2 separate regions of the Homo sapiens genome follow, and region 1 is linked to region 2. The links come from fine-mapping of genetic effects on gene expression. A gene starts in region 2. The other region holds a variant in brackets. All regions are shown on one strand. Distances are between the middles of the regions. Region 1 holds the start of LOC124904211 (a long non-coding RNA gene). Region 2 holds the start of HS2ST1 (heparan sulfate 2-O-sulfotransferase 1).

Evidence for each region. PIP is the estimated chance that this variant, and not a neighbour inherited with it, causes the effect.
Region 1: its variant is the best candidate, but not a certain one, in a credible set for the expression of HS2ST1 in whole blood (TOPMed, PIP 0.51).

The regions. Positions count from the first base shown.
Region 1 is chr1:86,969,913-86,975,296 of GRCh38, forward strand. All of the region lies in intron 1 of HS2ST1 (heparan sulfate 2-O-sulfotransferase 1), which reads left to right. LOC124904211 (a long non-coding RNA gene) reads left to right here and starts at 180. Exons shown (of 2, transcript XR_007066207.1): 1 at 180-5,131. The variant G/A (reference allele first, on the strand shown) is at 3,113.
Region 2 is chr1:86,911,632-86,917,015 of GRCh38, forward strand. HS2ST1 (heparan sulfate 2-O-sulfotransferase 1) reads left to right here and starts at 3,004. Exons shown (of 7, transcript NM_012262.4): 1 at 3,004-3,529. The coding sequence starts at 3,406. SELENOF (selenoprotein F) reads right to left here and starts at 2,495. Exons shown (of 5, transcript NM_004261.5): 1 at 2,397-2,495. The coding sequence starts at 2,480. RefSeq lists enhancers at 1,792-2,406, 2,255-2,304, 2,407-3,021, 2,415-2,574, 2,625-2,744.

The sequences.
Region 1 (5,384 bases), 58 kb after region 2:
GTCAGGAGTTCGAGACCAGCCTGACCAACGTGGAGAAACCTCGTCTCTACTAAATATACAAAATTAGCCAGGCGTGGTGGCACATGCCTGTAATCCCAGCTACTCGGGGGGCTGAGGCAGGAGAATCACTTGAACCTGGGAGGCAGAGATCGCGGTGAGTCAAGATCGCGCCATTGCACTCCAGCCTGGGCAACAAGAGTGAAACTCCATCTCAAAAAAAAAAAAAAAATGAGTATTTAGTTAAAGAGACAACTTTAACATTTTATAACAGAATGATTTTATTTTGTTTTGGTTATTCATCCTAACAATGCACATTTTACAAGTAATAATGTATTAATGCAAATAAACATGATTAAAATAGTTTCCTCTGTAAGCCATAACAGTGCTGGGAAGAATCCACAAGAAGTATAGGTCAGTTGTGAATAAAAAAACTGAATGAAAAATCTGCTTAATGAAATATAAATTAAAAGATTTTAAGCATAATTTTAATTTATAATTTTTTTTTTGAGACAGAGTCTTGCTCAGTTGCCCAGGCTGGAGTGCAGTGGCATGATCTCAGATCACTGCAGCCTCCACCTCCCGGGTTCAAGTGATTGTTGTGCCTCAGCCTCCCAAGTTGCTGGGACTACAGGCGTGCACCACCATGCTTGGCAAATTTTTGTTTTGAAATGGGGTTTCACCATGTTGGCCAGGCTGGTCTCGAACACCTGACCTCAAGTGATCCACCCTCCTTGGCCTCCCAAAGTGCTGGGATTGCAGGCATGAGCCACTGTGCCCTGCCTGTAATTTTTATTTAATTTTTCCGGTGATGGCATGAGTGAATGTCCACATTTAAAGTTATTTTGGTTCACACATGGCCTTTGTTTATTATTTATGAGAAAAAATTATAGAAATAATTTAAGGGTGGTACAGAAATGCAAATCTAGAGGACTTAAAATGTACATGAAAACTCCATTTGATATGACAAATAATTTACAGGTCAAATATTTTAATATTTATATATATAATAGATGCCAGTTAGCACAATTGACAAGTTCTCTTTTACGGAAAAGGCCCCAAAATGTCTTCTACTGATGCCAGATCAGTTGATTATCTAGGGATAGATATCTGAAATAAGCTAGGCCAATTTGATTTTCTCACTCAGGAATTACTTTATTGACTAATTTTATTAGTTCATTCAGTCAGCAAGTATTTATTGAAGGCCTGTTACATGTTTGGTTGCTAGAGATACAATGATGGAAAATTCAGATAAAGTTTCTGCTCAAACAAAGAAATTAAATTGGCTAGACATGGAAATAGTGGCATCCAAGAGGGAAGGTCTATACATTAGTGCTGTTAAGGCCTATAGAACTCCTCTGATTCCTGTCATTATTTAAAAAACAAAACAAAACAAAACAAAACAAAAAAAAACCTTGGCGGTTTAGTTATTTCTTCAGTTCTGTGAGCTACCCAAGCATCCTTCCAGTCTTTCCAATAAAACGGACCACCTCCTTCTTACTCTTATTTTTAATTTCTTAAATTTGTTTTAAGCCAAAAAACCCTAACCAATATATAAATTGGACCTAGGGTGGGGTTTTATTATGTACTCAGCTTAGGTCAGATGGTTAGATGTCTAGTCTTATATCTAACAGATTGGCTATGAAGATGTGGAATTTGAATAAAAGTGATAGCTTCTTTACACGTCCAATCTTAGAGTAGGGAAATGAGCATTTCACAGCAGAAAGTTTTGTTCTGAACAAAACAGAGTCCCTTGTAGTGTATATCTATCATATATACTGCATTATGTTTGGTTAGGACTTGAAAATTTTATTTCATTGCATCATGTTTTTGATCAAGAATTTGTAGGAATTTTGTGCAACAAGAGGTTATAATGTTAATACGTATTAATATTCTGACCGAGGTTGAAGTCTTCATTCTTGAAAGAAAAAAAAAATGCAAAAGTATTCTGATCTCAGAAGATATGAAAACTATCACTCTTCAGAATTACTGGCTTTGTGTTTTGAACTAGCTCTTTCAATAGTTTAACCTTCAACTTTTTATACTTGTCATAACTTGTTTATTAAATGAATCACTATGTCACCACATTCTATACTGATTTACATAGAGAAGATGTTCAGTAAAAGTTGGCATGATTTAAATTTTACAACAATTAACCATAGAGTTTCATCATAAGATTGGTTTAAGTGCATTCATTATTGCAGTTGCAAGGTTATGAGTTGTTAATGTTTCAGAAAAATTTTTAAGGACCCCTTTTAAAAAACGTTTTGTGTTTACATATATACATACCTCCTTCATCCTAGGTTTCACTTTCTCTAGTTTCAGTTAGCCAAGGTCAACCTTGGTCTGAAAATTGATGAGTACAGTATAATAAAATATTTTGAGAGGGAGAGAGAGAACATTCACATGGCTTGTATTACAATGTTATTATAATCTATTTAATAATTATTTTTTTTTAAGAGATGGAGGTCTCATTCTATCGCCCAGGCTGGAGTGCAGTGGTGTAATCATAGCTCACTGTAGCCTTGAACTCTAGGGCTCAAGCCATCCTCCTGGCTCAGCCCCAAGTAGCTGGGATTACAGCCAAGAACCACCACACCTGGCTATTTTATTATTGTTGCTGTTAATCTCTTATTGTGCCTAATTTGTAAATTAAACTTAATCATAGGTATGTATAGGATAAAACTTAGTACATATGTAGTGTTCAATATTGTTTGCAGTTTCAAGCATCCACTGGGGGTCTTGGGGCGCATCCCCTGGGGATAGGGTGCTGGGACTACTGTGTTCCTTACACAGTTTCATCTAATGTTAACATTTTGCATAACCATGGGACAGTTATTCAAACTAGGAGGTTGACATATATGTTATTAACTGCAGGCCTTATTTGAATTCCACGTGTTTTTCTTCTAATGCCTTTCTTCTGATCAGGATATAATCCAGGATTGCACATTAGATTTAGTTGTCTTTATTCTGCAGTCTATAATAGTTCTGCAGACTTTTTGTCTTCTATGGCTACACTTTGAGTTTGTACAATGTGCTCTCATGATTGGGCCAGAGTTATGCATATTTGACAACAATATCACAGAAACAATATGTCTTTTGTCATGGGGTTCAC[G/A]ATGTATGTCTTCTTTACTGGTGATAGCAACCTTGATCACTTGTTAAGGTGGTTTCTGCTGGGTTTCTCCACTGTAAAGCTATCTTTCCATTTGCAGTTAATACATTTCTTGGGAGACACTTTGAGACTATGCAGATAAAATCTAAGGATCTTTCTTTGTTCTTAAATTTTTTTTTTAATTTGTGTAAATTTATGGTCTTTTTTTTTTTTAAATCTAACTAATTACCAAGATCTATGGATTTATCATTCAAAATCAATCTTTCCTTTTTTTTGGATCAAGTTTAGATCAGTTTCCTTAAATTCATTTTATCATTCAATGATCAAGTATGCTAAAATGAAAAACGCTAGGGATGCGAAAATGAACAAGATGTAAATCTTGTAGTATCACCTAATAGTAGGCCTTGGCATTAGACAGATCTGATTTCAAACCCTAAATTCTAATCTTGGAGTCCTGTGAAGTTGTGCAAGTTGCTTACCTTTGTTGGGCCTCAAATTACCTCACAGAATTATTAGTAAGGGATAAATATGAAATTCTAGAAAGGCAAAACTAGTCTACAATGCCAGTACATTGTTGATTGCCTTGGGCTAAGAGTGGGAAGTTGACCCAAAGGGAGCTGAGGAACCTTTTGGGATGAAGGAAATATCTTCTATCTTAATTTTTTTCCCAAAACCTTATAGTGTACATTTGAAGTGAGTATATTTTATTGTAGGCAAATTATATTTTAATGAAATTGATTTGAAAACCAAGGTGGTTCTCCTTGAACCCAGTTTTCCATTTAATGGGATAAAATATGATATGTAGAATTCATAAGTCTTAAGGTTTTAGAAATCAGTCGTCTAGCTCTCCCTTATCCAGAGGAGTCTTGTGACAATTTAGCATTTGCAGAGCAATTTAAGAGTTTAAGTCTATAGTTGTGACAGAGTAAGAAATATATTTTTGGTCCTACCCCCAGTTCCTGACACAGAGAACATGAAAGCCCTTATAATTTCCTGAGTTGTAGGAGTACTGTCCTATATTCTGTTTTAATATTTGGTCATTGACCCTGGTTCCTGTCTCAGAACTCCTAAATCCCTTTAAATTTTTGGGGTGATAGTAGAGTCTTTTGTTCTAATGGGGTGACACTTGGGCTCCTGCATAGCTTCAGAATGGGGGCTGGTCACCAGAAAGTCCACACCATAATTAGAACCTTGGAAATTTCAGCCCCACTCCCATCTTCTGGAAAGGGGAGAGGGACTGGAGATTGAATTAATAATCGATTATACCTACATGATGAATGCTAAAAATTATTAAACTGTGGGATTTGGAGAGCTTCTAGGTTGCATTGAAATGAGTCCAGAGAGGCCATGGGAGTTCTGTGCACCTCCTCTACCTTGCCTTACACATCTCTTCCATTTGGCTGTTTCTGAGTTGCATTCATTATAATAAACTGGTAAATGTAACTAAAGTGCTTTCCTGAGTTTTGTGAATTGTCATAGTAAATTATCAAACCAAATGGAGGATGTCATGGAAACCTCTGATTTATAACCAATCCAAACAGAAGTTTGTGAATAACCTGAGGACCCTTACTTGGAACTGGCATCTGAAGTGGGAACAGTCTTGTGGGACTGAACCTTTAAGCTGTGGGTTCTGCACTAACTCTGAGCAGAATTGGGTTAAATTGTAGGACAGTCAGTTGGTGACTGCAGAGAATTGGAGCATTGCTTGGTATGGAAAACCCACACATTAAGACCCACTGGTGTTTCTGTGTGAGTATAGGAGAAAAACAATGTTTTCATTTAGTAGTCATCGCATTTTGGCATGTCTTTAGGTCTGAGACTCTCAAGTTATTCTTTTTCTTAAGTAGATTCCAAACTCAGGATCTTTCTGATCTCTTTTGGTCTCTTTAGAATCTTTTAAATTGATTATCTATGGAGTTTGATTACCTAGAGGTTCAAATTGACTGAAGTCAACTTCTTGGGACTCCTTTGAGTACAGAATTTTATTCTTCCCTTTGCAACCACAGAACTGGCTGGATTCTGGTGAGCTCCTGAAAGTTATTATTTGGTAATCTGTAGTTTTTAAGATTTGTTCGGTTGGCATACCCTTATGTATCTACATGAACCTTAAATTTAATTTATTCTCTTCCAAAGTACTCAAAGACTTTGGTAGAGAAAAAAGTTTTATACGCATATTTTAAAATCATGTTACTTTCCATGTGATCTAAAAGTCATTTTCTGTGGAAAAGAGATCAGTGTTTTAAAATTATAGCTTTTTCTTTTTTTTTTTTTAAGC
Region 2 (5,384 bases):
GGAAGCTGTTGTAATTCTAGGCAAAGATAGTAGCCTGAATATAAATACTAACTGTGGAAACAAAATTATTAAGTGGACTGGCTTAGAGATTTTTAAGGCTTTAACGACTAATTGAATTCAGACAGTGAAAGGAAAGAGGATTTAAAATGACTATTTTTTTTTTTTTTTTTGAGACAGAGTCCTGCTCTGTTACCCAGACTGGAGTGCAATGGTGCAATCTCGGCTCAGTGCAACCTCCGCCTCCTGGGTTCAAGTGATTCTCCTGCCTCAGCCTCCCGAGTAGGCATGCGCCACCACGCCCAGCTAATTTTTATATTTTTACTAGAGACGGGGTTTCACCGTGTTGGCCAGACTAGTCTTGAACTCCTGACCTCAGGTGATTTGCCCACCTCAGCCTCCCAAAGTGCACTGGAATGAGCCACCACAACTGGCCAAAAATGACTAATTTTTGGCTTGGGCAATTGGGAAGCTGACAAAGGCAAAGCCAACCATTTAGATTCTGAATACAGCCAGGGATAATTCAAACGGTGAACCAAGACGCTGTTATTTCTGAGGAGAGAGATGTTTATGGCCTGAGTGATTAACAATAAGTGGATGGATTTGAGATACTTAGGAATTAAAATCAGTAAGTTTCAGTAATTCCCTGGATATGATATATGTAAGGAAAGGAGTCAAACATGACATCCAAATTTCTAGTTTGGATTCTGTGCACAGTCACTGTGGTACGCTGTTTAATTAATTCCTATCATTATTACATATGGAATTAGTTAATTCCATAAATACCTCCTATCCTGGTATGCACACTTTGCAAAGTGACTCTGTCATTCCTCCCATGTAGAGATGAAATCTATTTCTCCATCCCTGAATGTGAACTAGTCTTGTGACTTGCTTTGAGAAATATGTGATGGAAGTAATATATGTGATTTCCAAGGCAAGGCTTTAGAAGGCATTGTAGCTTTTGCTCTTTTGGAGTGCTGCCCTGAGAGTGCCATGAAAAGAAGTTGGTCTAGCCGACTGGAGGATGAGAGGTCACACGGAACAGAACCAAGTCCTCGAGCTGACAGCACCAACTATAAACAGTGGTAATCCTGGAACCTTTCGGTTTAGCTGACCTACTAGGTCAACAAAAAGCATAAATGAGGCCAGGGGAAAACCAACATAGGTGGAGTAGTTCTACTCCACTGACCCAGAATTATGAGAAATCATTGCTGTTTTAAGCTACTAGGTTTTAGGGCGGTTACACAGCTATAGACAACTGACAGTCAAAGACAGAGGGAGATCAAAAAAAGACAACCTGAAATGTTATCTCGAATGACCTAAAGATGTGCAAAAACCCTTAAACAGTAGAAAGTTTAGGGAGAGGTGATCCAGTAATTCCTAGCACCAAATGCCTGAATAACAAGATAATTGGAATGTTAATTACAGAAGTTAAGAATCTACCTTTTGGTTAAAGTAGCCAAAGCAAACAGCCAGGATGCTTTCAAGCTCTTTGAGAAAGGTAAGTACAGGTGTTCATAGAGGACTCCGGTGTAGTCCCTTAACACCCTCAACCTTGGATAAGTAAATTAAACCAGGTCTCCTTATTAGAGACTACCCGAAGAATTAAGCTAGGATAAAAAAACGTAAAAGCTTTCAGCACTGTGCCTAAAATTTTACTATTCACACAGCAGAACATGGATATGAGAAGAAATAAGTTAAAAGTACACTTTTCCCATTCAAAGGTCACCCATCTATTCTGCCAATAGAGAAAAATGAAATAAAAAACGCTGCCTTAAAGAAGACAACGAACATCATTTAAAAAACTAACTTCAAAAATGAATTATACTTTGGTATAGATAACTCCTTTTACTCCAACAACATTGTTTAAAAGCACAAATCGCACTCAAGCGCAGCCAGCCGTATATGAATAGCAGAGGAGAACGGAAGTTAAGAGACTAACAGAAGTAGTGAAAATGAGAGAGCACGCGCGCGAGAGAGGTAAACACAAACTGTTCGCCTGGACCAACGACTTGAAGACTTGCCTCTAAGAGTTGGAAGTCTCGTCATGAGTCTCTTGCATTTCTGTCCATTTAAAAACAACCTCCACTTCTTGCCAAGCTTTATTATTCCCCCCTCCCACCTGGTGTGGTTTACAGATTGTTTTTAGCAAGAGCCGTATAAGAGAAGCTACGTACCCAAGACAATCTGAAATCAAGAGAAAACTGCTGCTAGAAACCCAAGGCGGGGAAGGAGAAGGATCAACCGAGAAATTAAGCCACGTTGCATTCTGGCCGCAGCAGTCATTAAGGAAGCGCAGTCCTCCCCACCCTTTTCAACCAGGACCGAATGTTGCGTCTTTCTCAGCTGCAATCACTCCTACTCTCCCTGTGGCAGCTGCGAAGGTGATCTACACTCACCGCTTGAAGCACAGTCGCCAACAACAACCGTAGCCCAAACGCCGGCACCAGACACCCACTCGGCCCAGCCGCCATCGCTACCATTTTCCGCAGGTTTCTGGCTGCCTAGAAGGACCCCTAAGCTAGGGGCGTCCACTCCAGAGCCTGATCCAAAACAGAACGCTAACGGCCGTTGCCCTTACATCTCTCATTTGGAAGTGACAGGTATTAAATAACGGCATATGAAAGCTTAAAAGTCATCAAATACAATCACTGGGTGCTTTCGATTACCCAAATCAGGCACTTGCCTAAACTCCCCACTTCTTTACTTCTGCGGTCTCCTTTCTTTTATTCACGACACTTCGTCAAGCAGCCAAGAAGCCACGCCTTCGCCAGTTTTAGCCCCGCCTTCTTCTCCAAGTTTACCCAATTGAATGTCGTCTTGATTGAGCTCTGTGGCAGAGGAAACCAACCGTAAACCGAACCAAGAGCGAAGCGCAGGGGCTCTTCCGTCCAATAAGCGGACCCGAACGGGGGGAGGGGCGGGGCTTCTGGTTGCCGAGCAGCGTACGCGGATGCGTGCGCGTGGTGGCGGAGGGGGATGGGCGGGGGCGGGGATGAGGGCGGCGCAGCCGCAGCGCCGGTGGAGGGGCGCGCGGCCGCGAGCAAAGGAGGGAGGGAAGGAAGGAAGAGAGGGAGGCGGGCAAGCAGGCGGGCGCGGGGGTCGGGGACTGAGGCAGTAGAGGGAGGCGAGAGCCCGGCAGCCGCTTCGCGCTGTTTGCTGCGCGGGCTTTTGGAGGGGGCGGCCGTTTAGTCGGCTGAGGAGAAGCGGACACCAGCGGCGTTGGTGATAGCGCCTGGGGGAGGGGGACTGGAGAGGCGAGAAGGGGGGTCGCTGCGGTGGTTCTCTCGCTGTCGCTCTCTCTTTGCCTCGCTCCCGGCTCGGCGGGCTCCTCCCGGCGTCTCTCTCGCCTCCGGGGTCCCGCTCCCCGCCCCCCGCGGTATGTCTTGATCCCGAGCAGCGGGTTTCATGGGGCTCCTCAGGATTATGATGCCGCCCAAGTTGCAGCTGCTGGCGGTGGTGGCCTTCGCGGTGGCGATGCTCTTCTTGGAAAACCAGATCCAGAAACTGGAGGAGTCCCGCTCGAAGCTAGGTGAGGAACTGAACTGCCCCGGGCTGAGTGCTGTGGAAGGGGCCGAGGAGGCGCTGCCGCCGGAGCAAGTGGGCGTTCATCTAACCTGGGGTCTGGCTCGGGGGCTGAAAGCGGTTTCAAAGAGAACCGGGAACAAGGGGCAGCGAGAGCACGAGCTCCAAGAATGGGTTGAATTAAGCTTGAGCGGCGTGCTGGGCTCGCGAGGTCACGGGGCAGAGGTTGCAAGGTTGGGCTTCCCTAGCCAAAGGGTAGCCCCGAAGTAGGCATTCCGCGGAGAGAGAGCGAGAGAGAAGACCGAACTCAGTGGGGAGCGTGTGTTGCTGGTCTCCGGAGACAGAAGCGCTTAGCATCGCGTGTTCTCTTGGAAGTCGTACAGGAAGCCCTGGCAATGTCAGATGAGGGGTATTCTAATTTGAGCTATGGGCATCTGGATACGAATTCTTTTGGGGGCTCATGAAGGGATAGGTGCGCAGAAATGGGAGGAGATGCTGGGATGACGGAGAGCAACATGTGAACACTGTAGCGAGTTGCACTCTTGTGCTCCGGGCAGCAAAGGACCTTGTAATTGCCAGCTGAGGGAGGCTGGCCGGGTAGTGCGGGAACGCGAGTGCAAAGCTTCATCGGAGTACGGAAATGAGGGTCCGGAGATTTAAATTCTTCTTTAGTGGCGCTAAACTGATGAATTGGGGCTTGAGAATAGGGATGCCTATGTATGTTGCTTCACGGCAGTGTTGATGTGAATTTCGAAGAGGAGGGAACGCTGAAGGGGAATTATGTAGTGAAGTTTGTGTTTGTTAAAGGAAAAGTAGGATTATGCGGAAAGCTAACCATATGGTTAAATACCTTAAAGGGTTAACAGGTGCTTTAATGGATGAGGGGGTCTAAAGTACAAAAAGTTGGTGTGAAGTTGTGAAAGACAGGCCAGAAAAAAGCACAGATAATAGGTACTTTCGGATTAATAGGGCACTTTGGCATTTGGAAGAGCTCAGCATGGAGAGCGAGAGTTAAAAGAATGACAGTGATAAATTTTGATTTAAAAATGTACATGGCACTTAAAAATCAGCTCAAGAGGATGTAATTTGAATATGGAAAAGTAATGTGAAGTGTTTTTTGCATACTCTCACCTCAAAATCATTTTAAATACCTTTTGAGAAGCCAGCAAAAACAAAAACAAAAAACCCTCAGCAGTGTAATTTAGACTAAGAAATAGATGTTACTGTGAGTGGATGATTAATTTTTAGGAAAAATGTACCAGAAAATAATTGTAATATTATGTATAGTAGCTATTTTGGTACAAGGCTTTGCAAAAGCCTTGACATTTTAAAGAGCCTTGAAAGAAAAACCATCAAGTAAATCTGAGTGAAGTGCAACTAAAGTTGGAGGAAAACTAGAGTTACTTCCAGCCCTCAATTCTAGAGTAAAATTTGAAGAGATACTCAGTTTATTTACGAATTCCTTTATTAATATGTATCTTGTGTGGTGGAAAAAAATGTCCACTTTAAATATTGAAGGTTATCCAGTCTGGTTTTTCTTTTCTTTTGGATCCATTTAGCGACATTCAGGGTCATATTCTGGCGTTATTAATGATCCAGCTCTACAGAAAAAAAGACTCCTCTTGAAGTGGAAAGTTATATTAAAATTAAAATTTGTACTTATTTTTTGTTTTGTTACTATTTGGAATTGTCTGGAGTTGATTTCTTAGACACGTTACAGTGGGTTAGAATGACTTAAATTTTTGATTTTCCTCCTTTCCTAACATTTCTTTCCCCATATACTTGAAAATTGCTTCCATAGACACAATCTGAATGATTTTTAAAAGAAAGTTATCTGAAGATGTATAATGCCACAGTTAAAA